Linked DNA regions of Homo sapiens: region 1 is linked to region 2. The links come from fine-mapping of genetic effects on plasma protein levels. A gene starts in region 2. The other region holds a variant in brackets. All regions are shown on one strand. Distances are between the middles of the regions.

Region 1 (15,395 bases), 83 kb before region 2:
GCCCGCGAAGGAGGCGGTGCCAGGCTGTTTGGAAATGTCAGGCTGATGGGTGGTGGCACTGCCCAGCACCCCACCCCCGCTCCCACCCCAAGAGGCTGGACACGGGCTGGGGCCCCGGTGATGGAGCCAGGCCGGGAGCCAGGAGATGCTGCTGAGCAGGGATAGCTGGCTGAGGGCTCCTGGGCGGCAGGGGATCCGAGGCTGATGGACAAGGGGCCTCTCCTTGCCACCGCAGCTGCGGCCTTGGTGGGCCGGTCGATGCGGAAGAGTGATGGTGCACGTGGGGCCGTGGGGTGTCGGAGGGAGGTTTATTGATGTCGGCTGATTTCCCTGGGGGCCCCTTGCTGGCAGCAGCCACCATGCTCCCCGAGAGCTAACCGTATCAGGCCGGAAGGGTGGTGGGCAGTGTGATGGATGGACTCCGGCTGTCGGCTGGCTGGGCCTGGATGGAGCCCCGAGATGGGCACACTGGGCCGTGACAAGAGTGCCGTGGGGTCCCTGGGGGAGCCCAAAGAGGCCTCTGAGAGGGTCTGTGCTGGGAGGTAGACCTGAGAGAGGGGAGACACCATCCCAGGGTGGGCACAGGCATGGGGCAGAGGGCACGTGACGCCAACCTAGGGCCCCAGGGGGTGGGACGGAGGGGCCTGGTTCTGGGGCATTGGGAGAGGCCTGGGACTCTGGACCTGGTCTGTCTTTCTTGTCCCCAGTGTGAGCACCAGCCCTTGCAGCTGAGCCCTGGGAGGCGCCTCCTGCCCACGCAGCAAAGCTCAGAGCTCTGTGGCCTCCTCTGGGCTCCTGCACAGCGGGTTTGCTCCCAGCTGCTCCCCTGACACGGACACCTTCAAGGGCCACGTGACTGCCATCCCCAGGCCTTGGCCCTCGATGAGGAAGGGCCCTTCTCAACCTGTGGCTCTGAAATAGGTCTCATGATGGTGCCAGTTTAATGACAGGAGCAGTGGCTAATCCAGTGGTCATTATTGCATGGGCTGTCATGCCCTTCTCTATCCGTGCTCCCTGAAGAGGCGAGGGTCCACTGCCGGCTGCCACACAGAGAAGCATGGCCACAGAAGGAGGCTCCTCTGCTCTGAGTGGGATGTTGGCTCCTCGGGCCACACTGGGCTGGAGGACAAGGGGAGGCAGGGGTGGGAGGGCCCTGGGCTGGGGTGGATGGGGTGGGCCTCACAGATGGCATGGCCCTGTGGACAGCGAGTGGCTTTTCCTCCCCAGGTCTCGTCCTGAGCCCTGCTCCTCCTCCTGGCCTCCCCTGGCCCCACACCTCTCCCACTGGCTTCCTTTCCTGGCCTCTTTCTCTCTGCTCCTTGTCTCCATCTCTCATTCCTCTGGGCCTTGCTTCACGGAGTCACCAGCCCGTGTGACAATGTCCACTTTCCCTGGCCTCATGTCTCCAACTTAGTGTGGGACCTGCCTTTCCAGGCTCTTTGGCCACATGAGATCATGGAAACACATGGCTGCTGTACCCACGCTGACCTGGCTCAGCCCTGGCTCATGATGCTTCCTGTGCACCCTGGTCCCATCTGTACCTCAGTTTACCCATCTGCCACACAGGGCTGAGGGCATCTGCCTTGTGTGTGGCGGTCAGGCTGGCCCAGTGACCGCCGAGCCATTTTGGCTTCCTCAGGTCTGGCCACTGTGAAGGACATGGCTGTGCCCCCCGTCTGCCCTGTGTGGCCCTGGGCACATTAACCCCTTCCATAAGCCTGGTCTGCAGACGAGCGCCCACCGGGCTGGCAGTGCCTGAAGAGTCTCGGGCGACGTCCACTCACCTCCCAATCTGGTCCCAGCTCTGCTCAAACTCAGACTGGAGGATCCCCCAGGGCAGTGACTCCAGTTCAGAGTCTAGCTGACTGCGTCCCTGGCAGCCAGGCACGGCCCAAGGTCCAGAGCTGGAGACTGACCCCCCTGTGTAGGACCTCTGGGAAGTCCCCAGGACCCAAGACGGCTCAGGGCTAGTGAGGTAGGGACAGGTGGCTATTTCAAGCCCCCAGCGGGCTTCCTGCCTGGGGCACCTGGGCACAGTGGAGAAAGATGGCTCCCGGCAGAACACATGCCCCCATCCTTCGGGGCCAGATGCCTTGGGTTGGGCACGGAGCAGGGCCCCCAGCAGACACAGAGGCCAGGGTGGGAAGGGCCAGGGCACCGCGCAGTCTCTTGCCCTGTGTCAGGGCTCCAGGCCTATGGTGGGGCTGGGCCTACCCACCCTGTCACTTTCCCCATACGGCTTTGGGGTCCCAGGGGTTCAGGGGCCCCTCCTGCCTGACCCAGCCTTAACTTTTTGTTGTTTCTTCTCATTACAAAAGAAGCATGTTCAAAAGAACCCCACAGTCCTCCATGAACCCCACAGTACCCCGTGAACTCCAGAGTCCTCCATGAACCCTACAGACTCTCATGCACCCCACAGTCCCCCATGAACCACATAGTCCCCTATGTACCCCACAAGCTCCCATGTACCCTATAGTCCCCGATGCACCCCACAGTCCCCTATGTACCCCACAAGCCCCCATGCATCCCACAGGCCCTTATGTACCCCACAGGCCCCCATGCACCCCACAGTCCCACATGCACCCCACAGGCTCCCATGAACCCCACAGGCCCCTGTGCACCCCACAGTCCCACATGCACCCCACAGGCCCCCATGAACCCCACAGGCCCCCGTGCACCCCACAGTCCCCTATGTACCCCACAGGCCCCCATGTACCCCACAGTCCCCTATGTACCTACCCCACAGGCCCCCATGCACCGCACAGGCCCCCATGAACCCCACAGTCCCTCACAGCCCCCATGCGGGGAAAGGGCCTCACTTCTGGCCGCTGACTGACTTGCCAGTTTCCTGGAGTTCTTTATCCAACTTTCAAGGTTGCTGAGTCCCGGGAACACCTCAGAAACCTCACGAAACAGTGACAGGTTGTCAATCAAGCAGCAAGGTTGACATGTTTGAGCAACGTTCAGCCTGGGAGGCGCTGGGGCCAATTAGCAGAGACTCCCAGGTAGCAGAGCCCCCGGGCTCATGGCTGGGGGGTGGATGGTCAGCCCTGACGCTGCTGCCCCCACCCGAGGATTTCTCCCCAGCCATGGACTTGGGGCTGAGGGATTCCTGTACCCTCCCGGCCACCTGGACAGGGTCCCCGCCGTGGCCCGGCCTAGGGCGTTGGCTCAGACCACACCTGCCCAAGGATGGAGCCTGACACCCAGGAAGCAGCTCCTTGCAGCGCCCTGGGCCTCCGTGGGGCCCCTCTTGGCAGAGTGACCTGGGGACCAACCCCCTTCTGTGAGGCAGGTGAGGATGCTGCCTTGTGGGCTGAAGGCCAAGGGGAAGAGGCATACTGGGGCCACTCAGGCTGAGCAGTGGTCACAGCGGCCACCCCTCCCTCTCCAAGGCTCTGGCGACCACTGTTCTGTTTAGCCCCTACCCCTCCCCACCTTTTAAAAAGACAGGGTCTCGCTCTGTCACCCAGGCTGGAGTGCAGTGACACAATCAGAGCTCACTGCAGCCTCCAACTCCTGGGCTCAAGCGATCCTCTTGCTTAAGCCTCCGAGTAGCTGGGACAACAGGTGTGTGCCACCATGCTCAGATAATTTTTTTAAAATTATTTTTTGTAGAGATGGCGGTCTCACTTTGTTCCTCAGGCTGGTCTCAAACTCCTGGCCTCAGGCAATCCTCCCTTCTTGGCCTCCCAAAGCCCTGGGATTATGGGAGCCAGGTTCCCAAACACTCTCTGCTCTTCCCTCCACCTGGCATCTCCCTCCCCAAAGCTCTGCCCCATCCTGAAGTCCCCACTGCAGATGCTGCCCCTCCCAGAAGGTAGCTGGGCATGGGCTCTGCAGCTGCAGAGTTATGGACTGGGCCTCCCTGGGCAGCTTCCTGGGAGCTGCACCATGCACGGGTCACGGGACCCTCCTGGGTAGGTTGAACTGGGAGGCGACAGAGACCCTTCTAAAGTCCCTATGCCGGGTGCTGGGCTGTAGTCACATGGTGCCCTCCCCAGGAATCCCTGAGGGGTGGGTGCGTCTCTCTCAGCAGCACCAGCAAGGACCAGCGGGGAGGGGTGAGCATCTTTGTTCTGTCCAAGAGCCTCTTTGGAGCACGAGCACTTGCCACATGCAGGAGAGAGCCATGTTCACTTTCCTTTTATGGCTGAGTTTGAGATGTCTGGATAGAGAGTTATCAGCCAAGGCACTGATAAGGTCTGCGGGGGGAATATACTGTAAAGGGCTGAGCGTGGAGTGGGGGCTACCTCTCCTGCTCGGGCTGGTGTTGGGGGTTGGGGTGGGCTGGGTGAAGCTGCCACTCCTGGCCTGGATATATGGAGCCCTGGGCAGTCCTGCCTGTCCCATGGCTTTGCTGGACACAACAAGAACTGCCAGATGTCATTTGTGTGGGAATCATTTTGCTGTTTGAGCGAAGTTGGATTTGTTAGTGTGCTCACCAGTGTGGATGGATGAGGTCTGACCAGGAGGCTGCCTGTTGTCTGTCTTTCACAGAGGGCCCTCCACACCCAGGGTAGAGCTGGGGAGAAGGAGTCCTGGGGAAATACTGAGTTAAACAAGGCTGATGTATCCTCTGCAGGACTTCTCAGTGCCTTTAGCATGGCGGGTGTAGGTGAGTCTAAGAGATGGCCAGGTAGCCTAGGTGTGGATATCACCAGGCTAGGGCTGCTGTCTGTCTCCTCTGCTCACGCTCCTGTGCAGGGAGGGACTTGAGGGTGGGCCTGGGGAAACTGTGGAAAGTAGGAGTCTCTGTCCCCAGACACTGTCTCTGAACTGGGGCCAAGATTCAGTCATTTCATGTCCCCACTAGGCAGTGCTTACAGATGTTGCCCAGTATCAGCTGCATTGATTAAAGGAAGAGCTTTCTGACCATCAGGTGGGGGCGCTCTCCTGGTGAGTGGGGCTGGGAGGCAGAGCCCTGTCCTCCGCGGTGTGACTGGGACGTAATCCCCTCCTGGGGCTGAGTGGAGCAGGGGCTTGCGCCTCCCGCAGGCCTAGCTGTGTGGGATCTCATGGCACTCTGCTTTTATTCTGTTTGCTCCAATACCTTCTGCTTGCCACCTGCGATGCTTATTTTCCATTTCCAGTGGTGCTGTAAGACTTCCTTTCAAAATATAATCACTTAAGTTAAAAAAGCCCATTCGAAGAAAGCCCTCGAGTAAACAATAGTGGAGCAGGTGGGCAGGTGGAGCTGGCCCTTGGCCGGTGTGTGGGCTGGGGGCAAGTGGGAAGGGACAACGTGGGAAGGAAAGGGGAGCAGGGGGTGTGGGGACCCTCCCTGGGAAACTCCCAGCCCGCCCTGGCCTCTGTTACTGCCTGGCCCTGCTGAGCTCCCTGGGCTGCTGTCTGGTGGCCAACACTGGCGTTGGCTGCCCACATGCCATGGGGTCTGCACACAGCAGGGGCTGGGGGACAGC[G/A]TCACAGGAGGAGGAAGGCCACCTGTCACAGGAGAAGGAAGGGCACACAGAGGCTTGTCTGAGCCCCACGTGAGGATTAACAGAGGGGATGCATTGCAGTAAAGAGCACGAAGCTGCTGTGACCTTTGCCTCTGACCGCCCCCCTTGCAGGGCCACGCCTGCACGTAGCCTCTGGGCAGGTGCCATGGGGTCTGCCAAGGCTGGCATTGGCTGCCCAGATGCTGTCCTGCCCTGAGGTTCCATAGTCCTCCGGCCACTGTGGCCTCACACTGTGTCCAGCTATGCTTTTTATTTACCTGTTAACCTCCCAGCATACTTATTCATGATAACAGTGACAGGGAATGGGGCGAAAGTCTGAAGTGTCCTTCACCAGCAAGGGGCTGGTGGAAAAGTGGGACTCCTGTCTGAGGCCACTCTGGGTGGTGTCTGTGTCCCAGGACTCTACAGCCAAACCCAATGCAGCTGGGGGCCTTCCATCCACAGACCCACATGAGCAGTGGTAAGGACCTGCTATATTGAGCCAGCTCCTCACACACGCCCTCTTCCCAGAGGGTAAACTGAGGCCCAGGATGTTGCCTCTTGCCTGAGGCTGCATGGCTGGGTGGAGCCAGGCCCTGACCTCTTTGCTTCTTCACCTGCCCAGGGCAGGTGTTTGGATGTTGAGTCGACTGATGCCCCAGGGCGCCAGGCCCTCCTTCCATCTCACGGTCCCTGCCCCTGAGGCCCGTGTGTTGGGGCTGGGTGGAGGTGGCCCTGTCTCCTTTCCAGGTGAGTGGTGCGCACCCTGGTGAGCAAGGACCCCAGGCCCTGGCTGCAGGGCCTCCCTGTGGCTGGAGGTGTCTTCCACACGGCCAGTGTCCGGCACGAGCACTCTGGGGTCGGACACTTGAGATGGGCTGGAAGGAGGGGGCATAGAGCCTTGCACAGACAGGGGCAGCTCAGGCCTGGGTTTGAATCCTGACCTAGGCACCCTGTGGTGAGGACAGCCACAGGCTGAGGACACTGGTGTCCAGCATGTGCCCAGCTGTCACCTCCACCCTGGGTTTGGCATGGGGCTGGCAGCAGGCCCAGGAGGGATGGGAGTCAGAGTGTCAGGGAAGCAGTGGGAACTCGGGACACTCTGCTGCTCCATGGGAACAGCATTGGCCCTGTGGTGTGGGCAGCCTCAGCAACTGGGCAGGGGCTGTCAGAGCCCAGGGGATGCTCCCAGAAAGTGGGATGGGAGCCCAGAGCCCACAGCCCCTGATATCACTCAGCCTGGGAGCAGGCCCACTGCCTCCACCGTGCAGACGAGGAAACTGAGGAGGGCCCTTGGGTCCCCTGCCCAGGCCTCACAGAGAGCAGGTGACAGCTGGAGCCACCCCAGGCTTGTCCACCCCCCTGAAGGGATCCCCAGGTGCCCACCCTCTTCCTGCCATCTGGGGGCATGACTCCTACTGCTGACTTGAGAGTGAAGCTACCGCCACCGCCTCCCTCCACACCTGGGCCAGCCTGGGCCATGCCAGGGGCATGCCTGCTTCTGGCCCCATGGGCCTACTGGTCTTGACCATTAAAAAGCATGTGTTGGGGCTGGGCGCGGTGGCTCACACCTGTAATCCCAGCATTTTGGGAGGCCGAGGCAGGCAGATCATTTGAGTTCAGGAATTTGAGACCAGCCTGGCCAATAGGAAGAAACCCCGTCTTTACTAAAAATACAAAAATTAGCTGGGCCTGGTGCCTCCCACCTGTAGTCCAGCTACTTGGGAGGTTGAGGCAGGAGAATCGCTTGAACCTGGGAGGTGGAGGTTGCAGTGAGCCGAGACTGCGCCATTGCACTCCAGCCTGGGCGACAAAGTGAGACTCTGTCTCAAACAAACAAACAAACAAACAAACAAAAAAGCACGTATTGGGACTACAGTCAATGATAATTTATTGTGCATTTAAAAATAACTAAAAGAGGCTGGGCACAGTGGCTCACGCCTGTAATCCCAGCGCTTTGGGAGGCCGAGGTGGGCGGATCATGAGGTCATGAGAACGAGACCAACCTGGCTAACACAGTGAAACCCTGTCTCTACTAAAAAAAAAAAAAAAAAAAAAAAAAAAAAAAAAAAAAATTAGCTAGGCTTGGTGGCAGGCACCTGTAGTCCCAGCTACTCCAGAGGCTGAGGCAGGAGAATGGTGTGAACCTGGGAGATAGAGCTTGCAGTGAGCCAAGATGGAGCCACTGCACTCCAGTCTGGGCGACAGAGCAAGACTCCATCTCAAAAAAACAACAAAAAACAAACAGACAGAAAACTAAAAGAGTATAATTGGGGTGTTTGTAACACAAAGAAATGATGAATGCTTGAGATAATGGACACCCCATTTCCCCTGATGTGACACTAACCATTGTATGCCTGTATCAACATATCTCATGTACCCCGTATCTCATGTACCCCATAGATATACCCACCTACTATGGTCCCACAGAAAAGGCATGTATTGGGGCCAGGCCCAATGGCTCACACCTATAATCCCAGCACTGGTTTGGGAGGCCGAGGCAGGAGGATCACTTGAGGCCAGGAGTTCAAAACCAGCCTGGACAACATAGCGAGACCCCCATCTCTACCAAAAACAAACAAAACAAAAAAACTTAGCCAGGTATTGTGGTCTGCACCTATAGTCCCAGCTACTTGGGAGGCTGAGGCAGGATTGTTTAAGTCCAGGAGTTTGAGGCCACAGTGAGGTATGGTTACACCATGGGTGACAGAGCAAGACTATTTCTCTAAAAAACAAACAAAAAACAAAAACAAAACACAAAAAAGCATGTGTTTTCCTGTTCTCCCACCACCCCACGGCAAAGACAGTACTGGCTATTGACACAAAAGGTGTGAAACGCCCACATGCTAAGGAAGACAGAAGCCCCCAGAATCCAACCTGGGGGTGTTTCAGAAGTGCTGAAAGGGAACAGTGTGGTCCCTTTAAATGATACGAAAGAGAGGAAGGGGGCTGGGCGCGGTGGCTCACGCCTGCAATCCCAGCACTTTGGGAGCCTGAGGCGGGCGGATCACCTGACGTCAGGAGTTCGAGACCAGCCTGGCCAACATGGTGAAACCCTGTCTCTAATAAAAATATGAAAATTAGCCGGGCGTGGTGGTGGACTCCTGTAATCCCAGCTACTTGGGAGGCTGAGGCAGGAGAATTGCTTGAACCTGGGAGGCAGAAGTTGCAGTGAGCCGAGATCAGGCCATTGCACTCCAGCCTGGGCAACAGGGCAAGTCTCCATCTCAAAAGAGGGGAAGGAAAGTGCTGGGTAGAGGAAGGCATGGTCCCTGGCTAGGGTTCCACCCCCATGGACCTAGGTGAGGACAGGCATTTCCTGCCCACATGTTGTGGCATTTCCCAAGACTACCCGGGCCTGCCATGCTCCATCTTGTGCCTATAAAAACCCCTGAGACCCTAGTAGGCAGATACTCTAGCGGCTGGACATTGAGAGGAGTGGATCAGTGGAAGAACGCACAAGTGGCTGGACGTCAAGCGGAATCCACAGACAGGCACTGGCAGGCCTGGCATTTGTGAAGCCGGCTGCGGCAGAATGATGTGGAGTTTGGCTGGGGCAGTCGTAGGAGAGCTCAGGCCGCCCAGGGGAAAATCATCTCCCTTCTGGCTCCCCCATCTGCTGAGAGCTACTTCCATTCAATAAAACCTTGCACTCATTCTCCAAGCCCACGTGTGGTCAGATTTACACAAGGCAAGAACCCCAGGATCCAGAAAGCCCTCTGTCCTTGTGATAAGGCAGGGGTCTAGTTGAGCTGGTTAACACAAGCTGCCTATAGATGGCTAAACTAAAAGCACCCTGTAACACGCCCAGTGGGGCTTCACGAGCTGTCAACATCCACCCCTAGACACTGCCGTGGGGTCAACACCCCACAACTTGCCCGTCTGTATGCTCCCCCAGAGGTTTGAGCAGCAGGGCACCGAAGAAGTGAGCCACACCCCCATTGCATGCCCTGCGAAGGGGACAAAGGAACTTTTCCTGTTTCAGGGGAATGGTCCTCACTGCCTCCTCCAGATTTTCTGCCCTGAGTTGTGAGGACAGCACAGCTTGGGCTCTGTCCACAGCTTTTACTGGGAGCCTGAGGCTCCGTCACTCACTCGGCTGCTTTTTCCTGTGCTGGATGAAGCCCAGGAGCTGGCTGTGCAGGTGTGTCTGGGATTTCATGGGCATAGATGACTCCAGGACAGCTCCTTAAACACCAAGCTCAAGCAGGTATTGCCAGCTAAATGAGGTCAATTCCTGGCAGTGGATCTCAGGGCGCCGGCCTTGGACCCCACCTGCTTGCCCACCCCCAGCAGGCAGAGACCTTTCTAGAAGGTCACAGATGCTGCTGCGGGATGGATCGGGTCCCAACCCTGGCTGGGAGTGATGCCCGACAAGCTGCTGTAATTCTCAATTCTGCTCCGGAGGCCTTGGAGATGCTGCAGGCGGGCAGGTGGGGTTGGGGGTCAGCGTCACAGGAGGGGAAGGCCACCCATGGGGGCACATAGGGGCTAGTGTGAGCCCTGCATGAGGATTAACAGGGCATGCATTGCAATACAGAGCACGAAGCTGCTGTGACCTTCCCCTCTGATCGCTGTCACAGGGCCTAGCCTGCACGTAGCCTCCTGGGCAGGCACACCCCTGGACCCCTCCCTGGTGCTCTGCTGGAGGCCACGCTGGGCTCTGGAATCTTACTGCACAGAGCTCCTGGAGACCCACCCTCAACCCTTGGGCCCCCTCTTCCTTCCTGGGTCCTGGAGGGGGCTGTTAGGGGGCATGAGGCCACGCAGCCCTTGAGCACCTACTGTGTGCAAGGGCCTGGCGTTTGTGAAGCAGGCTGCGGCCATCCTGGGTGGGAGTCAGGGAATGGGGGTCCCGGAAGTGCTGGCTTTTCTGGTGGCTGTGGGGGATCAGGGGGCCTTGCTGTGTATCTGTGAGCTGAGCCATCCTCTGAGGGGCTGAGCGCTGGCAGGAACCTATCACGTTTCCCAGGGGCAGGGTTGGGCATGAGAAGCCCTATCCTGCCTCTCAGCTAGGCCATGTTTCATACCCCACAGATGCTTTGGAGGTGACAGATCTGGGTCAAGACTGGCCTTCCTGGTGACCAGCCTTCAGATGGACACTGGGCGGCAGGTGTTCCTGGGCTGCCATGGCTGGTCTCCTGTGCTGGTCCCCAGAGCAGCCTTCCTCTCCCCTCCCCAGACACCCCATCCTCTGCCGAGGCCTGTGAGCACCTGCTGTGTGCCCACCTTTTGCTTAAACCCCAGGACGGCCTTACCCAGATGGGGAGCCTTGGTTGGATTGAAGGGGCTTGCTGGAGGTGCAGGGGGAGGGGAGGTCAGAGCCCACATGCATCCTGAGCTCCCTCATCTTCCACACCCCATGCTCATCCCCCCAACCTGGCCCCGATGCTATCAGCCCTTAGCTGGGGGAGGGCGGACCCCGGGGACCTCAGAGGCAGGGCTCCTGCAAGCACTTTGCTGCACATGTCTCTGTTCCTGAAAATGCCCCAACCCCACCAGGGCAGCAGGCAGCAGGGTCTGTGGGAAAGTCAGGAGCCCCGCTGATGGTCCTGAGGGGCCACCCCAGCCTCAGGAGGAGGACCTGCCCTTCTCAGGGCCCTGCTGTTGCTCCTTCAGCTCGCCTCCTCCATGCTGGCCTCCGGGCTGCTCACACGAGGATTAGAGGCAGGAATGAAGAAAACCAAAGTCAGACCACTACCAGGACCAGGGTACAAGAGACCAGGCCTGGACACCACTTATGGCTGGGGGCCTTGGGCTGGTCAGCGCCTCCCCCTCAAGGCATATACACAGTGGATCGGTAAAGGCTGTCCCATCTGGGGCTGTGTCAGGCCTCTGTGGGAGGAGGCATGTGGCGGGCCCAGCTCAGTTGATGGATTCAGACCCATGCATTTGGCCAGCCCTAGTCAGGGAACATTGCAGCCACTGCCTGCCCAGCACTGGGCAGGAGGAAGTGTCCTTTCTAAGAGTGGAGGGAGCTCCTGCTCTCAGGCCTCAGAAACGAGGTGCTAAGGGGGCTTTCAGGCAGCAGCCTCAGGCAGGAGGAGCTCCCGTGCCATGCGAATGGCTTTGCCCAGACACCGGGTGGCTCAGGCAGGTCACTCTGCCTTCTGTGTCCTCCTCCTTGGTGGGCTGGTGGGCTGAGCCAGGAGTCGGGCTTGGGGCCTGTTCCAGGCTTGCAGGCAGGAACAGGCCCGGGACACCCCAGAGACAATATTGATGCTGTTTCTGCCCAAACAAATGCCAGCTACTAATTCCGGTCTCTGTTGGAAACACAGAAATCAATGCTCACAGAACAGGGAGGCTGGCCCTCGAGGAGCAGTGTGGTGTTGGGTCCCCAGGCAGTGATTACGACAGGACAGGCAGGCAGGAGAACAGAGCTCTCGACCTTAGACACGTCCCATGCGGCCCTCACCTGGCGACCTGGACTCGGCAGCACGTTGGGGGTCAGAACAGTGGGTTCTCAGGGACCTGGCCTCGGGGGGCACCCGTCATCCCTCAGCACCCTCCCCTGCAAAAGGGAAGCAGGGCCTGGACATGACCCCCAACCCTGGCTCCTGCCACATTCCCCTGACTTTATTTACCACCCGAGAGACTCATAAATAATAGTTGAGGGGTCAGTGAGCGAATGAACTAGCCAAAAAACCAGCTGGGGAATGCGTGTGCAGGTGGAGAGAATGGGCGCTGGGCCTGCCTGGGCACAGGTTCACGGGCCTCTGGATGCAGCTCACCCCGTGGGAGCCCACAGCCCTGCAGGCCGGGCAGCCTGAGGGCCAGGACAGCCCCACCCTTCTCTCAAGGTGCTGGTCCAGGGCCTGTTTCCCCATCCATGTAGCATTCTTGATCTCTGGGTCCTACCACGTCCCTTGGATCTCAGGCTCCCAGCCAGGAGGGGCTCCCACCACCATCTCATGACCTTCTGAAACCCCAGCGCTGGGTGTGCACCTTCTTGCCAGGCTCCATGGGCAGCAAGCACCCGCCCCTGGCCTGCTGGGCACTGCACCCAGGAGGTGCCCAGTACTTGCTGGGACAGCTGTCTTCTGCTATGTCCTGGGCTCGTGTCCTGCCTGCAGCTTCCGGGCTGGGGAGCTTGGGCAAGGCTCTTGGCCTCCCCCACCCCCACCTTGGTATCCCTCAACCCATCCCCCTGGACATGGGGTTGGTGCCTCTATTGGAGGAGGTGGTAGGTCAGGCAGCCTCTGGCCCGCAAAGTCGGCCCTGGGTCCACCAGCCGCCCCTCTGCCCTGCCTTTCCCGGGTCCCGCCTTCCCTTTCTAGGGCTATGGCTGCTTGTGGACAAGCGTCTCACGGGTAGGAAACGGGACCTCTGAGAGCTCCTGGCCTGGCTGGGTCCTCAGCATGTGGGTCTGTGAGCCAGGTCCACGCCAGGCAAGGGTTTTTACCTCTCTGAGCCTCGGTTTCCTCGTCTGTAAAAATCAGTGAGGGGATGTCTCCTTGTTGCACACACAGCAGGACTGAGATTAGAGCCACAGCCTGCCCCACCCCAGCCCCTGGTCAGGTGGGGGTGCTGCCATCTCCCAGCAGCCTGCCCAGGCCCCTCCCTCACCTGTTCCGAGACTTCCTGGCCCCACATGGGCACCCGGCATCCTTGTGGGCTCACCACAGCCTGATGCTGCCCACAGCCCATCTGTGTGGCCTGGCAGGGGGCCCCACAGCTTGGAAATGCCGGTATCTCCTTGCAGACCCCAGGTCAACACTGTAGATTCCTCCCTCTTCTGTCATGGACCCCAGGAAGGAGGGTGGGTGGGGCCCTGGGCTGGTGCACCGCCCCAGAAGCCCTCAGCTCCTGGCAGGACCCCCCTCCCCCTGCAGGCCCTCCCCTGGGAGCAGCTGCTTCCCTGTTCATTCCAGGCTGGGTGGGGACCCCCAGGATGGCCCTTTCTCTGCTGTCTGTGGGCCTAGGGTGGGGTGGCCCTGGCCAGGCCCTGTATGGCCTCCCAGGCTTCCCCTTCACCCACTCGTTGTGGGCATGTGACACATTCATTCTAACTACAAACTGACACCCACTCACTGAGGGCATTGAAAAACCGGAGAGCCCCAGGAGCCAGGTCACGTGGTGACCCCGACAGAGACACCCCACAAGGGTGTCCCAGCCAGGTAGAGTGGCCCTGGGTTGGGGAGGCTTTTAGGTTGGATGCTTGGTTAGGCACCTGCCAGGTGAACCTCAGCTGGGGGCAGAGAACCTGGGGCCAAAATCTGGGGGCCGTGGTCCTGGGGCGCTTCCCTGGGCCCCACTGCAGGCACATGCCCTCCCACCACGCGGGGGAGCTCCCCCTGCCCGTGAGCCCTGCTTGCACTTCCTCACCCGTCCTCACCCTGCCCCAGCCTCCAGCCCGCCCTGGAGCAGGCTCTGTCCCTCAGGCCCTCTTGGCCATGGGGTCAGCCTGGTGCCTGCTATTTTGCCCTCAGGACCCCTTTCTCCTGACCCCTGCCAGGAGCCCTCAGCATTCACTGAGTTTTGGAGGAGCTCCCTAAACACAGCTGTGTTCACTCTGGAAGGCTGAGATGTGGGGGCAGGTGCGGGTGGGGTAATGATGTTGGGTGGGCTGGCAGTGGAGCCAGAGAAGGCCCTCCCAGGACGAGGGCGCAGGGGGCTGGAGGGGAGGGCACTCGGGCCCTGCTTGAGATTGAACTCAGTTACTGAGCAGCCAGTCTGCCAAAGTCTGATCTCCCGGCTTTCATTCTACATTAAAAATTGATCTGAGATGGGAGAAGTGAAGGCAGTGGCCATGCCACCGAGAAACACTAGCTGTTCTCTGAGGCTGCTGGAGACACAGCCTCCTCCAGGAAGGCTCCCAGAGGCAGCTCCAGACCACCAGGCCCGCTTCCTCCATGCTCATCTGCCCCACGCTTGCCTCAGACTCCTGGCAGATCACTAACCCCTCTGAGCCCCCAGCCAGGCCTGGATGGGTTTGTGTTTGCATGAGGAGGCCCTGGTCCTCACAGGCTCCCCCTGTAGCCAGGGCAGTCCATCTCATCCTCACCCCCGTCCACTCTGCCGGGGCTCCTCTGTCCCTGAGTTCTGCCTGAGGGGCTGAACCACCAGCCTCGGGGCGGGGGAAGCCCACTGCACACCACCTCCCTGACATCCCGGGACATCTTGCAGAGAAGGAAACTGAGGCTTAAGAGAGGAAACAGTGTCTGCACAGGGCACAAAGCCACAGAGCCGCCTTCTGCACAGCTCCCACCTGCACCTGCGTCTCCAGGGGAGCTGGGATTTTCCAGGAGTAGGTCCTCAACTCTTGGGCATGTGGCTGGGCCCTTCCCGACCCTCAGAGGAGAGCAGGAGCCACGGGACAGGAGTAGACATGAAGAAGCCTCCACAGGGTTGGGCTTGCCCAGGGCAGCCTGTGGCCAGCGCTGGGGGTCACGGCCCCAGTGGCCTTCCGAGGGAATGGACAGGTCTGCCCCATCTCTCGCCTTGGCTCAGGCTCTGTGTGTGCTCACTCAATGCAGCCGCCAGCTGCTGCTCCCCCACGGGGTCTCGCTCACTGCATGCGGGCTCTGCTGCTGCTGTCGGTCCTTGGCCTTGAGAATTCCTCTCTGGGAATGCGTGTTTCTCTCTGTGAACATGTTTTGCCTTCTACAGGCCTCCTTAGCCTCATCAGAGACTCCTGAAATGAGTTTCCCGGTCCTGTGTGGGCCAGGGGCCACCCGCCTCTCCAGACCCCCAGGGCCCATAGTGGCCTGTCCTTTTGTCCTGCGGCCTCGGGCCCCTGGGGTGTGTGGGGGGGTTTCCTGTCCTTCCCCTGAGCCCTGGGGCACGGGGACCCCTGGGTGGATGCCCCTCATCCTCATCCAGTGCGCTTGCTGCCGGCCCCAGGCCCCCCGCGAGGGGCCCTATGGAGTCGAGACAGGAGCCCACCTATAGGCCCTGTGTGGCCTGGAAGGTGGGGATGCCAGGGGAGCTCTCCTGCAACACCCCTGACTTCCA
Region 2 (14,714 bases):
ATTCAAGGCTGGGGCAGGGACGAGGAGAGGGCAATGCTACAAGGCTGCACTGTTCCTGGGCAGAGGGAGGGGGAGAGCACGGTCCCACACACCCTGGCCCTCACAGCCTGCCTGTCACTCACAGCAACAGCAAACAAACCCTGGCCCCTCCACAGGCTGTGGGCCAGTTCCCAGCCTCCCAGGACAGCAGGACCTTCCCCCACCTTCCAGGGCCCCAGCCCCTGTAGGGGTGTCCTCCATGGACCCTCCACAAGCCCTCTGGCTTTCAGAGACGTGCTGGGCCAGGCCCTCCCTCAGCCTCTCCCCTGCTTCTCACTCCATGCAAACCTACGTTTCTGCCAGTCCCAGCAGAAGGACCCTGGCACGGGGAAACTGAGGCTCAGGGGTTCCACAGACCCCCAGGTGAGGAACAGGGGGAGGGCAGGGAGGGAGTGAAGGTACTATGGGAGGGTCTCCCAAGCTGGGCAGCATCCCTGCCCTGTCCCCTCTCCACTCACCTGTGGCCCGAGTTGCCTGACTAGGGGCTTTTATTGTCCCTTCTGCACATGGATGGGGTGAGGGGCCAGCTGGCAGTGCAAAGGTCCCAGGAGGACTCTGCTGAGTGGGGGTGTGGGGAGGTGTTGTGGGCATTCTGAGGCAGAAGCACCAGAGTCAGAACTCCACAGGGAAAGCCGGGCCAATTCCGCCCAGCCTCAGCCTGGAAGTGCCCCGATAATCCCTGACCACTGGCCCATGGTGCAGGTGAGGAAGACTGAGGCAGAGAGGCGACCTGTCACACCCAAGGTCACACCGCCAGCAGGTGGCTGAGCCAGGACCCAAATCCAGGTCACGGTTCTGCCACGGCAGGCCCTGCACGTGCCCCTCTGCCAGGTGGCGTCTAGGTGCTGATGGCCACCCATTCCCACCCCCGGCATGGGAGCTCACTTCCTCCTCACCTCAGTAGAGAAGAACAGGGAACAGTACCCCCTTTATAGATGGGAAGACTGAGGCTTAGAAAAAGAGACTGGCCAGCCCCACTGCTTCAGCTGCCCCTCTGCTAGTATGTTTCACCCTCACACAACCTACAAGGATAACCTGCTGGTCCCCACTCTATAGATGAGCCTCTGGTGGTGGCCAGGGGAGCAGGAGGTGTGGCCTGCCAATCCAAGCCCCAGCCCAGGGCCCTTGCCACAGTGCTAGTGGGCCACCCTTGCCCATCATGCAGCATGGCATCCATCTGCTCAGCACCCTACACAACACCGGAGGTAGGGGAGCCCACCACAGAACCCCTCACCAAGAAGGTCCTCACCATGGAGAAACTGAGGCACTGGAGGCGGGGCCTCTGCAGTCACGCTGGGTCACGTGCTCCAGTCAGCCAAGCTGCAGCGGCCACCAAGGGTGCCCAGGGTCTGGCCTGTTGGTCACAGTGTTGACCTCATGGCCTGAAATGGGTCTTCCCTGCCCAGACAGGTTCCAGCCCACCATCATCTATCTGCCTCAGCCCTGGTGGGTAGGGAGTGGCTGGGAGACCCTGCCCCTCACACCCTGGGCTTTGCGGTATTCAACGAGCCCCCAACACACATTCCAGGGCCTCTGCTCCAGATTAGGCCACAGCCTGTCTAGGCACACAAGGGGCACCCACACCCTGGAGGCAAAGAGACATGCCTATGTGCCCGCAGGCACACATGATCACGCGCACAGACACACGTGCAGATGCATACCAAGTTACACACACGCACACAAGCCCGAGGCGGGGACCCCCAGGACACGGAGGCAGGCAGGCAGAGGTGGGGCCCAGGATGTCTTGCCCCTGTCTGTGGGCCTGGCCTCCCCACTCAACAGACGAGCATGTGGGTGCGGGAGTGGTTATTGCGAAAGGGGCCCCAGCATGTGCCACCCGTGGAGACCACAGCAGGCATGCCGCGTGCATGCATGTGTGGCCGTGGGTGTGCAGGCGGGGGCGAGGACACAGATATGCACCCTCAGAGTCCGTGTGTGCACCCAGTGTTTGTGCATGTGCACACTGGGGCGGCGTTGGCTTGCATGTGCACCAGAGGTGTGCAAGTGTGCAGTCCGTGTAGACAAGTGCACGTGCAAGGAAACGTGTGTGCAGCCTGCGGCACCATGGACATCAGCAGGGCAGCCTGGGTGGGCACCTGGGGAGCACCCTCCAGGCGGGGCATGCCCAACTCACATGGAGCCCACCCTCCCTTGCCCGCACCGCGGGACCTCACAGCCGGTGGGGCGGGGGAGTCCCACGAGGGCTGCTAGGGAGGGGTTGCTGATTGCCCCACCGCCCCTGATTCCCCCAGCCAAGCCTCTCAATGTCCCTCGGGCTGCAGATGGCGGGCGTTGCTGCCTCCTCTCACCGCCCGCCCTGGAGGCAGCGCTGGGACAACCCTGTCCCCCACGCCCTCTACTGCCGCCAACGCCCCCATTCATCCCACTGTGGACTGACCTCGGAGAAACGGGAGGTTCTGAGCCCAGACCGTGAGGCTGGGGTGGAGGCGGCCCGACACCCCCACCCACCCTCGGTACCCACGTTTCTGCAAAAACCCGCTCGTTAACCCCTTGGTGGCCGGGGCGCTCCGAGGCCGGGCCCCGCCCTTCCAGCCCACGGCCCCCGCCCTCGACTTGGCCCAGCATCGGGGACCCTCGGACCGCCACCCTCGGCCCTGCCGAAGCCGTCAACTTTCCCGGGAAGCGGCAACTTTTCCTGCCGCCTCCGGCTCCGCCCTCCCGGGGCCGGGGCGCCAGCGGCCCCAGCCTGGCGCGGCACTGCGGTGGCTTTCCCTGCCGCCCGGCTACGCTTCCCTCGCCTCGGCAGCCCGGGACGGGCCCTGCGGCTCCGGGGAGGGGGCGAGCCGCCCCCCTCCGCGCCCCGCCGCCGGCCGGGCTCGGGTGCAGCGCGGACACTCACCTCCAGCGGACGCCCTCTTCATCGTAGGGGTTGGGCGGGGCGCGTCGGGGACTGAAAGTCGTTTCGGGGCGGGCGCCCGTCTCCCCGCGGCCGGGTCCGCATCCAGGCGCCGCCGCTACGGCCCGGCCCCGGCCCGGCCGCGGGACGAGGCTCGGCGCGCTCCGCTCCGCCCGGCTCTGGCTGGGCTCGGGCCGCGGGTGCGCAGGGCGCGCAGGGCGCACAGGGCGAGGGCGGCGGCGGCGCGGGGGTTGGGGCGTGGGCGGCGCGGCGGGCCGGGGCGCGCAGGCCGGGCCGCAGGAGGCGCTCAGCCCGCCCGGTGCACCGGCGCCGCGCGGTCCCAGACAAAGGCGGCGCATTCCTGAAGAGGCGGCGGCCCCTGCAGGCGGCGGAGGGGATGGCGGCCCGGGCCGGAGCCGGCCGGGGACGCGGGCCCGAGGGTGTGGCGGCCTAGGCTGGCCCGGTCCCCAAGCGGGCAAGGGCTTTGTCCCGAGGCCTAGGAATGGCCTCTGCCTGACCCACTCCCTTCCTGGCCTCACGAAACCCATGAATCCCCCGCCCCCTGCACAGAAGCCCCTTGCTGCAGCACGATCGCCCCCATTTTTCAGTAAGAAACAGGCTCAGGGCTTAAGAGAGTTCTGGGGGCCCTCCTGGGCCTTTGTGGCCCTCTCTGCACCATCCTAGAGAAGGGACCTAGGCCTGATGTTACCCGTAACCCTGCAGGGGTCCCCCACCTCTTCCCTTCTGCGGAATGGGGGCTCCAAACCCAGAAGACGCTCTCCGAGGTCACCTGCTTAGTATCCCCCCACTCTACCAAGCCAGCCCCCCACGGGCGGTGTGAGGCATGGGGCCAGAGAATCCAGTGACGCCCCTGCACACACCACACAGGGGTGCAGGTGTCCCTTCTCAATCTTCTGCTCGGGGCACCTACCGGGCCTCACCGATGAGCTCCTAAGTGCATCCCGGGGTCTTCAGACAACTGCCAGGCTGCCCCTGCACCTGGAGAAGTGCTGGGAGTCAGCTCAGCCGGGCTGGGTCCTCCCCAGGCCCACCCTGCATGAGAGGACCATGCAGATGAGGGTCTTGCAGGCCCACCTGGTGTCAGTCTGTAGGACCCTGACTCAAGGACGGAGTGGGCCAGCCTGATGCCTTGATGGCCCCCCTCAGAGCCCAGGTCCACTGATATGAAGCAGAGAGACCTGGTGACTGGGCACCCCTGTGCCCTCTGCCTGCCCCTGGCCATGGAGGTGGCCCTGAGGGAGATGAGCAGGGCGCAGGGCCGGTGACCTGCCTGCCTTGTGCAGAGGAAGTGAGGACCTCCCAGAGCCCTGGTGCTCCCATCTGATCCCAGTGGCAGGCAGCTTCGCAGGGTGGAGCCATGCTGGGTGGGCCCTCTGCCTGGTGTGGAGGCTGCACTGCCCACATGCCTCTGGCTGCCGCTCTGTGGCCCTCATCACTTTGGCCTGCTTTATCCCTATCACCCTTGTCCCAGCCTAGGCTTATGAGGGCATTGTGGAGTGCATGCCATTCCCAGCCACACAGAAGGTGAGGTGGGGCCCAGACACCCCCAGCCACTCTGTCCCCTGGCCTCCTGAAGGGGTGGGCTGTGCACACACTGCCACCTCCCCAGAGGGTGCTGGCTGCCGAGTGCCACCAGCTCAGCCCCTGAGGTGGCTCAACAGGTCCTCCCAGAGCCACACCAAGACGTCATCACCCATTGCACAGATAGGGAACCTCAGGCGAAGCTCACAGAGCCAGTGGGAGGCTGAGGCCTGACCCCCAGACAAGCATTCTTCTCCAGGGTCCCTGCACACAGCAGCCCCCAGGCTAGGAACTGAGCTCTCTCCACAGGGATGTATCAGACCCTAGATGAGTCACGTGGCACTGACCATCAGTCTGAGGACAGCGCTGGGGTGGACCAGGCTCCAGTCTCGGGCTGCTCTGTGCTTGCAGAAAGGCCTTGAGAGGACACTTGCTTGCTTACTCCGCAGGCGTCTCTTCAATTACCAGTGACCCAGAGCAGCCCACTATAGCTGAAGATTGTGACCCCACACCCTATCTCATAGGTTTAAAGCCCCTCCCACCCCTCCTGCCGCAGCCGAAGTGACCATTCTGGGGCATGGGATGGGCATGGGGTGAAATGGGGAGCAGGGGTGGCCCTGGAGGCTTCTGGCACCAGCACCCTCTCCAGCCACCAACCTGGCTGTTCCCGGTTGCTCTGCGCTGGGACCTGGGCCTCCACCTCCCCACAGGTCTCTGCATGGGAGCAGGGCTGAGGCCTGCAGAGGGAGCGCTGGGGGATGGGCTGGTTTCCTGTGTCCGCCACCTCGGTCAGCACGTTGGCCAGCACCCTCCCCACTGGAAGCTGGGCCCACTCCTGGGTGCTAGCTGGGATGGTTAGGCGTCGGCCAGCGCTGATAGGGAGTTATGGGGGTGCAGAGGCAGAGTTGAGCAGGGCTAGGCAGCCGGTGGGTCTGCTACCAGCAAGGCACAGCCCACTTCTCAGGCTGCGCATGTGGGAGGGTTTGGTAAGCCACATTTTTCAGGGTGTAGCCGGGTGAGGGGTAGCATGGGGAGTGGTGTACTCTTTGGGCAGGCGACCACGGAGCCATCACCCCCCAGGGCCCAACGGGCAAGAAGGGGAGCAGCTGACGGCTGGTGAGGGGCTAGCAGGGAGGGCTTGACAAGGGCTGGAGCCCCTGGTCAAGGGGCACAACCAGTTCTATCGGGTCACCTTGTGGGAGGAGCCAGGGACCCTGTGGGCAGAGCCTGGCCGTCTGCTGCCCGGAGTCTACACCAGTCAGTTCCTAGGAAGCCCCATCAGGGGTGCTGGGAGGACAGGCCATCTGTGCCCAGCTGATGCAAGCTCCCAGGCTTTCTGGACACGTGGCCCTGGGGATCAGGAGTGAGCTGGAGACTGCAGACAGCTGTGCCCTCAGGGCCACACAGACCTGTCACACCCTGCCTGGACTGGGTCAGCAGGGCCACACGGGCATCTGCCCGAATCGTTCCCCACCTCACACCCACCATGTGGGGCACATTCTTTGCCAGCTTCCCCAGCCCACCACCCCTCTACAGTGAGGCCAGGGGCTGTCTCACCTCCCACCCACACCCACACCCAAAATGTGGGGCTCAGCCTCCACGACCAGCATGCCGGTCATGAGGGCCCTGCCCAGCTGTGTGACCTCAGCCCAGTCCCTTGGCCTCGCTGAGCTTGCACAGCATGTGGACGAGGCAGACGCTAATGCCTCAGGTCCTGGTCAGCTGGTCACCATCCCTCCTTTGTTCACCTCGCCTGTCCCCTGAGAGGATCATGCAGGGTTTTCACTCAAAACTCCAGGACTGCCCATAGAAGCCAGCTTGAGATGAGGGGAACTTTCGCGGTGGCCTGTCTTGGGCTGACAGGGACACGGTTCAGCCTCCTTGGAAGGTCACTGCTTCCCAGGGCTTGGGAAGACTCATCTCCTGCCTGGAGAGATAGGCGTGCCATGGCTTTCCTTGGCATGCCTGTGCGGTACTCACGGACATCCAGGCCCTCAGTGTCTCCTGGGGAGGGATGGGGCAGCAAGGAAACTGGGTCTTTGCTCCACACATTCTGGGCCACTCCAGGCCAATGCAAGGAGAGACCAAGAAGGAAGCTAGAAGGTCATGTGGCAAGCACATGCCTGCTGCCCAAGTGTGTCAATGTGACTGACCTTCCCTGCACTCTGAGTGGGCGGCTGGGGATGTGGTCCCAGTGCCAGGGAGCTGGGGGGTGTTGGCCTGCCATCTGCTCTCACCATGGAGGGCGGCTGCATGCCCAAGGCCTAAGAGGACTCTGTGCCAGGCCTGCTGAGTGAGTCATCCCATTCAATCCTACAGTGTAGACACTACTACCACTACCCATTTTCCAGACCAGAGAAGGAGGTCTGGGGAGCTTAGGTGGACCCACATCTTGGCAGCCCCTTTCTGCCCTCTCTTTGTCCACAGCCTCCGCCTCCTCCAGAAGCCTCTCACCATCCCCCATCCCCGGGGCTGCAGAGGGTGTCCTGGCCTTCCCCTATCAGCTCTGCACCCCTGAGGACTCCCATCCCTAGGAGTCCCTCTGCCCAACTTTGGTGCATGTTAAGCCATAATTAATCTGCTTCCTCATCTCTTATTCATCAAAGCCACAGCAGCAGCAAAGGGGGCTGGCACAAGGAAGGGACCGACAACCAAACCCTGGCAGTGGCCCCAAGAATCCCACTGGGCCTGCCCATCTCCAAATGCCTCTGACCCTTCACTAGCGAGGGCCTCCTCCCACAGAATGGCATCCTGGATTGTGCCACACTAGGCAGGCCCCCTGACGGACCATGCGCACCTCCCACCACCTGGAGGCTGCTGGGGACCGTCAATGGGACGTATGCATTGCACAGTGATGGCCCTTACCTCTGCGTCCCCCAGCCCTGGACTGGATCCCTTGTGGCCCATCTCCAGGATGGGAGCCTGAACGGAGATGAAAGGACACTCGGCCAAGTGGGACATGCCAGGCTGGCACCTGGACCCTGGTCCGCCACTCTTCCTGGTGCCTAGAGGAAGGGGTGAGTCCCCAGGGCTCCTGGACCTTGAGATGAGCCTCGGGCCACTTGTGTTTGCCAGCAGATGGGCTCAGGGTCTTCTCTCAGTGGGCACAACCGAGTTGGTGGCCTCTCTCTGGGGAGGCCGGCTGGTGGGGGCTGGGGAGTAGGCGGCTTCTGGTCCCTGAAGGCCCAAATCTGGTGCAGGGGCAGAGCTCCGGAAGGCGGGGGTCCCTGGGCTGTGCCCAAGGCATCCGCTGTGGCTTCACGCCCCTCCCCCGCCCCTGCAGGGAGTGTGGATCCTTCTAGAGCCACCCACCTGGCAGTGACAGCTAAATTGGGAGCCGCTGTTCACACCAGGAGCCCAGCGGGCAGTCAAAACCGGGTCGGGGGGGAGGGGCACCCGCTGAAAACACCCACAAGCTCCCAGTGGGGCAGGGAAGGCAGGGAAGGCATGGTGATAGCTGTCAGCAGGAGTGGGTGGGGAGTGGAAGGCAGGGTAGACCGCCAAACCCATCTTGGGGCCATAGTGAGATGGCCCCTGGGATGCTTCGGCTGGCCAGTGCCCAGCCTTGCTCTTGTAGGAGCTCCCTGGGCCCCTGGGTTCCCCACTCTGGGCCACCACAATCCATGCAGCATGCAGGTTTGTTCCGTTTCCCAGATGGAGAGGCTGAGGGCTTACCACAGGGTTCCGTCAAGGACGCAAAAGGGCCAGCCTGACTCTGAGCTCAGTAGCCCCACCCTCCACAGCCTCCCTTGCCGCCTTCATCTGCTCACTTCCTCAGTCACTCAACAAACACTCTGGGAGGCAGACTGTAACACCCTGCATACCTCTGCTGGACCCCCATTCCACATATCCCCACTGGTTACAGGTGGGGAAACTGAGTGCCTGGGAGGCGGGCCTTGGCCTGAGTCCCCCAGTCAGTGATTCCAGGATAAAGGGCATAGCCATGCCATTTGGTCACTTGAAGCCCACAGGGGTGACTGGGAAGAGCCCACCTAGCACCCCACATTCTGCTAGGGTGACTCAGACCAAGTCCTTGGGGCTCTGCCCCCCAGCCAGTGGCTCTGCCTCTGAGAGCCATGGGACAGGGAGCTGTGCAGGGTGGGGCCAGCAGAGCCTGTGCCCCTGCCTGAGCTAGTCGTGATGGGGCCTGCCCTGACCCCTTCCCAGGCTCATGGGTGCGGAGCAGGGCGGGGCCTTACAGTGAGATGGGGGCCTCTGTGGGCAGTCCTGGAGGCCAGGCCCTGGGGCTGGGACTCACTGGCACAGGGCCTAAGTTTCCTCCTGTGTCCGCAGGCCTTATTGCCTGCAAGGGAGGTGGAGGGGCACAGGGGCGGTGCCCAGCGTGAGGAGGGGGCTCTGAGGAGGCTGCAGCAGCCGGCAGGCCTCTGAGACTGGGATATTTTTAGCCAGGATTCCTGCTGACGGTCCAGGCTGGCCGGGGTTTGCTGCCAGCCTTAGAGGCGCTTCTCCTAGTCTGTGTCCGGACATCTGGGGTCTGCTGGCCCCACCCACCCTCTGCTCAATGCCCCCGCCCCACTGGCCCATCCAGCCAGGCGAGGGGCTCCCAGGAGGCCGGCCATGGTGGGAGCAGAGCCTGGGGCCCTCGGGGTGTGGCTGAGAAGAGGCCACATGGGCTGCTGGGGGCTGCCTGTGTCCTGGGTCTCCAGCTCCCAGCTGCCACTCTTAGCCGACCCGCTTAAGGGGCAGGTTTCTGGAGGCTCCGGTTCATGCCCAGGCTCGAGTTCTGAACTGAGCATTCTCAGTCCGCTGCCTGCTGCCTGCTGGAACGGATGGCTCAGCAGAGCGGCCACAGCTTGGCTCCCTCCTGGGCACTCCTGCCTGCCCTTGCCGCTTAGGTGCTCTGGTCATCAGGCCTCTCTGGCTGGCTCTACCAAGGTGCATGTGTGCAGGGCCTGGGCTTGCAGGGCCTTGTGGCTCAGCCAGGACCACCTCCCTTCCCATGGGCAAGTGAGGACATCCAGAAAGAGGGTCCTCTGCCTCGGCCACTCCCTTGGGACACCCCTCCACCCCAAGGCCTCTCGTGGAAACAGAGTCCAGCACTCAGCGTCATGCCTATGCACTCCACCGGCAGGACTGGCTGAGTCCCGAGGAGCCAGGCCCTGGGGCACAGGCCAATCGGATGGAACCCAGATGAAAGCCCAGTGCTGGGACCCACGGCCCATTCTCTGGCCTGGCTGAAGCCTGATGGCTTGTTCCTTGAATGAATCAGGAGGCCCATCCAGAGCAATTGTGAAGTTCACATGAAAGAATGAACGTACGGAGAGAGATGGGCCATGTCGCATCCTGAAACGCCTTATATTCTAAGACCATGATAATTAACACAGACCCTGGACAGTCACACGATGGGAAAGAGTCCAGAAAGAGGCTCAAATGCAAATATGAGAAGAGGCAGGTCAAATCCAAGAGGAGAGATGGAATATTCAACAAATAATCCCACATATACAATCAACACTTGGCCTTAAGACAACGGAATTGACATATGGAGGAAACATTTGGATTCCTACCTCACTCCTTGACGCTAAAACAAGTTCCAAGTGGAACTAAGATTTAAAAAGTAAAAATGAAACCATAAAACTCCTAGAAGAAAGCATGGATGGCAAAAAACCAATCTTGAGTCACTCTAAGAATTATACAAAACCCAGAAGCCATGAAGTAAAAGATGGGTATATTCAACCTCGTGAAAATAAAAGGCAGATGCATGGAGAGAAAAAAACCACCATAAAATGATAACCAACAAAGGGTAAAAACATCGGCAACTCAGTTCACAAAGGGCCGTTTTTGGTTCTCAATACAAATCAGTAAGAAAAAGAGCAACAGCCCAAGAGAAAAATGGGCAAAGGCATGAAAGGAACCTCCCATCACCCCCTGCTGACCTTCACTCAGAGTGAGAAACATGCGGATCTAAGCTGCAGTGAGATGCTGCCCCTCACCCACAGGGATGGCAGCCGCATCAGGCTGGGGGTTCCCTAGGGGGGCTGCTTAGGGGCTCCCACAGGTCTGGCTGTTGGAGGGCAGGGAGAGGCCTGCGGGTCTGGTGGGGCCGGGGTGAGGCACTCACAGATATGTCTAGTGGGGGTGAGGAGGGGGACCGCCTGCAGGTACAGCTGGGGGTGTCAGGTCGCTGGGGATGGGGTGGAAGGAGAGGATACCCATTCAAAACAGGAAATATATATATTTTAAAGTAAAACAGGCTAAGTGCAGTGACTCACACCTGTGATCCCAGCAGAGCGGGGAGAATCCCTTGAGGCTAGAAGTTCGGGACTAGCCTGGGGAACATAGTGAGTCCCAGTCTCTATAAAAATTAAAAAATAAAATTATCTGGCTGTTACGATGCACGCCTGTAGTCTCCGCTACTTGGGAGCTGAGGCGGGAGGATCACGTTAGCCCAGGAGTTCGAGGCTGCAGTGAGCCATGATTGTGCCACTGCACTTCAGCCTGGGCAACAGAGCAAGACCCTCTAGAAAAATAATTAAAAAAAAATAAAAATAAATATAAAATAAAATAAAAACCAGCTGACATCCATCCTCTCCTTGCCACCACTGACATGGCCGTGGGCCGAGTTCTCATGGCCATCCCACCGCGAGTCCCCAAGCGCTCCTGATGCCTGCTCACCCTTCTTGTCTTTGTTAGCGCCCCGTTAGCAGAGGCCTGCTTAACTTGTCTCTGGTCTTGCTTCTCAGGAGCCGTGTCACATTCAACAGTGGCAGCACAGAGGCCCTGCTCAGCCCCAGTCCCTCACCCTAGGCCTCCACTGCCAGATGTGGTCCTGGTGGTCCTGCGGACTCAAGCTGTCCCCCCCTGCCCAACCTTCACAGGCCACCAGCAAGTCCCAGGCCTCCCACAGGCATGGCTCTGGGCAGTATCTTTACCTTCCCAGCCTCAGTTTCCCTGATGGTGAAACAGGGTGAGATCTACTTCCTAGCAGAGAATCCGGGGGAATGGAGGCCGTGGGAGGAAGAGGACTTGAGGAAAGGAGCATTCCTGAGGGGTCCCAGAGCGGGCTGGGGCTGACAGGACTGAGTTTGCAGGGCCTGGGGACATTCCCTGGGGAGGTGCTAAGATGCCGGTCAGCTAGAGCAGCGGGGAGTGATCCAGGATGGCTGCCCGGATGAGGGGCTGGGTCGCTGGTCCCTGAGTGCCAAGGTGGTCTGTCCATGTCTGCAGGAACACACCCACCCTGCTGCCTCCAGGAGGGGTGCTGGACAGGCCTGAGCTCCAGGATCATAGGAGGCAAGAGCCACTCTCACCAAAGAACAGCAAGTGTGCCTCCCCTGCCAGCAATCTGTCCGGTCCAGCCCCTGCCCAGCTATCTGGGGAAAAGGCCACCTTTTCAGTGGAGGCTGAGCTCAGGGCAGGAAGAGGTTGAGAGGGGAGAAATGGAGTGAGAACTGGAAGGTGAGAGGTGTGAGTGAGAGGTAGGGGTGTGAATTGGGGGTGAGATGTGGTAGGTGAGAGCGGCAGGTGAGAGGTAGGGATGAGAGGTGGGGGTGAGAAGTGGAGGTGGGCAGTCATGGTGATAGCTTGTGGGGTGAGAAGTGGAGGGTGAGAATTGGGGTGGGAGTTGGGGTGTCACCTCCCAAACCCTCTCACCCTCAGATTAAGAAGCCCCTCCTATGGGCCCTGGAGGAACAGGCCTTTGACCCACCCCAACCCCACTGGTGTCTTGGGCAGGGAGATCTCGAGGTGGGGGCCTCAGCTCCCCGTAGGACCGTCTAGCCCTGGACCACCTGACCACAGCTACAGTGGGACAAGGCCCCTGTTGCCTGTCTGCTGGGGGCCGAGCGTGGTATGGAGGAGCCAGCAGCCCCCGCCTTCATCACAGAGGAGGAATCCGAGGCCCAGGAGGGTGTCTCTGGCACCCAACACGTGAGACCCTTTGAAAATCCCCCGAGTGTGTGGGGGGCTGGGATGAACATCTGGGGGCGGCAGCAGCAGGTGGCCCACCTGGCCAAACACACTCCTGTGTCCCCTTGTTTTTGGCAATTTCAATGACCAAAATCAGATCCTGGTATGGAGAAAAAGACATCGGTAAGGACGAAGGAAATGTGAACACTGCATGGACGATGGCTGATAATAGTGTGCCGCTATTGGCTCAGCAACTCTAACCTACCAATGCCAGATGCTCACAACGGTGAAACTGGTGTGTGGTAGATGCGATCTCTCTGTACTGTCTTCTCAATTTTTCAGCAAAGATAAAACTGTTCTAAAGTTGAAAAGTTTATTAAAAAAAAAAAAAGAAAAAAGACGGGCTTATTAGCAAAAATCTGAGATAGAACCAAGCAGTAGGGCCCAGCCCACCCCCCGCTCAGGGCGCACCAGCAGTACCCCTCTCTCAGGGACATGGCCAGGCCTGGGCCACTCCGAAGAGCTCTTCCTGGTGCTGGGGGGCCTGGTGGGTTTATTCCACCTGTCAGTCTCACTGCAAAGTGTGGCAGTGGAGTCTGAGTTAGGCTGACTCTTACCCTGCCAAGGACACCCCTGCACTCAGGACCCAGCCCCGGCCCCCTTGCCCTGTGGGCTGGAGGCGACCCTGTGTGCAGATGGCAGATGGAGGGGCATGGTGCTGTTGCTCTCAGGTCAGGGGCAGCAGCCTCAGCCCTGACCAGCCCTCTCCTGCGTGGTTGTGGTTGGGTCTCCTGGTCTCTGGCCTCCTTTCCATTCCAACCTGTAGAAAACAGTGTGGTGGGGGATGCTCGGCCTGCAGATCAGACAGGCCGGGGTCAAAGCCCCGAACTACCACCTGAACTAGTCCTGGCCGAGTGGCGCTGATGCTCTAGGCCGAGGGCCCCCTTGACAGAACAGCCATCATCTAGCTCCGCCGCAGGGTAGGGGAGGTGGCAGTGTGGGCCGCAGCCCTCGGCTGAAGCGGGGGCCAAGCGGGGCTCTGCCTGGTGCAGGGGGTTTCCTCTATGGGGCAGGGGCTCCCAAATTAGCCCTGGTGACATCTGGAGCTCACCTCTGGGGGCTCTGGGGGCTGAGAGAGCAGGCGGGGCCCAGTTCTATCAATCATCTGCCTTGTTCCTGGGGGATCGCGGTCAGTCCCAGCCTCCCCACAAGTCCTGGGGCGGGGCAGGCCTGCTGGAAACCCAAGATGCAGAGAAGAGCGCCAAGCACCTGAGACAGGGCTCTGAGCACGGAAGGCAAGGACGCCTCCCTCAGCCTCAGCTGGGGAGCCAGTGGCCCTGCATGCACTTTCTCCCGTCTGGGGAGCCTGAGCCCTGACCCAGTCCCGAGGCCCATGTGTGCACAAAAGCCCCCTGCTTTCTCACCCAGGACACTGGCGATCAGTGGGTAGGCGAGCCGGAGCCCAGCTGCTGCGCTCCCTTCCCTGCCAGGACCGGGCCAGCTGCATCCTCATGCCTGGGTTTCAGGGCTTCTCGGGGGATGTGATGGCACTGCCTGAGGATGTGGGATCCTTCCACTGAAAAGGGCCACACGGCTGTCCCCAGCACCCTTCCAGAAGGGACAACCCACTCCTGGGAGGTCTTAATGTAGACATCGAGGTCCCCCGAGCTTCCTCCATGGCCTGGCCACTTCACAACCATATTTCTTTATGTTCCACGCGCCTTGCCTGCTCCACGGCCAGGACCAGGGCCACCATCTTTGCAGCCGGTGAAGGGACAGCTGCCGTGGGCTGGGCTGCTGAGGCAGGACAGGGGTCCGGGCCAGGGAGGGGTGGATGGAGGCCAAGGATGGGCCCCTTGGAGACAGCCTTGGGGTGCAGCCGGCTCTGCCACCTCTCCCTGGCTTCCTTCCCTCCAACCTGTGACTCCTGGGAAGTCCCTGATGGGCCAGCCACTTGGGGCCGGGAAGTAACTGTGGTGTGTGGTGGTCACCCTCACCAGAGTTCATGGGGTGGAGCAAGGGGGAAGAATCTCCCCCAAAATCAGGTGTCTTGTTCCCAGGCCCAGCACAGAGACCTGGCCCCCAGACATCTCTGGACATTTGTTAAGAGTGGACAACTGCTTCCATTACACAGGAGAGGAAACCGAGGCTCTAAGGGGTCCCAGACTTGCCTGGCTGCCACAGTGAGCAGGCAACAAATACCAAGTGGCTGCCGCAATGGGGTAGGTGGGAGGCAGTGGCTGAACCAGAAAGTGCTGCTGTCGATTCTGCTGGTTGCATGAGTCTTAGGAGATCATCAAAGGGCAGATTGTGGGGAGATAAAAAGTATGAGTGGGGAACAGGATTGGGGGGAGCAGAAGAGCCTCAAAGACCCTGCGACATTCTCAACGTCTCGATGGTGACTCAGAGA

Direction of the effects. Alleles are on the strand shown, and positions count from the first base shown. The strength of an association depends on the size of the effect and on how common the allele is.
For the plasma level of the protein whose gene starts at base 3,147 in region 2, A is the low allele of the variant in region 1 and G is the other (strong association).

The links. A credible set is the group of variants that fine-mapping cannot tell apart. PIP is the chance, under the fine-mapping model, that this variant and not a neighbour inherited with it causes the effect. Protein levels are from antibody-based Olink assays in UK Biobank. Linkage for the fine-mapping came from a reference panel and not from the study's own genotypes, which makes the PIPs less certain.
Region 1: its variant is the best candidate, but not a certain one, in a credible set for the plasma level of the RTN4R protein (UK Biobank, PIP 0.71).

The regions. Positions count from the first base shown.
Region 1 is chr22:20,181,766-20,197,160 of GRCh38, forward strand. No RefSeq gene overlaps it. Among named protein-coding and RNA genes, the nearest start is that of LINC02891, 15 kb to the right of the region's middle. RefSeq lists an enhancer at 4,881-5,418 and a cis regulatory region at 6,212-6,915. The variant G/A (reference allele first, on the strand shown) is at 5,424.
Region 2 is chr22:20,265,172-20,279,885 of GRCh38, forward strand. RTN4R (reticulon 4 receptor) reads right to left here and starts at 3,147. Exons shown (of 2, transcript NM_023004.6): 1 at 2,900-3,147. The coding sequence starts at 2,921. RefSeq lists enhancers at 1,991-2,679, 9,493-9,993 and silencers at 2,891-3,050, 3,141-3,300, 3,351-3,410.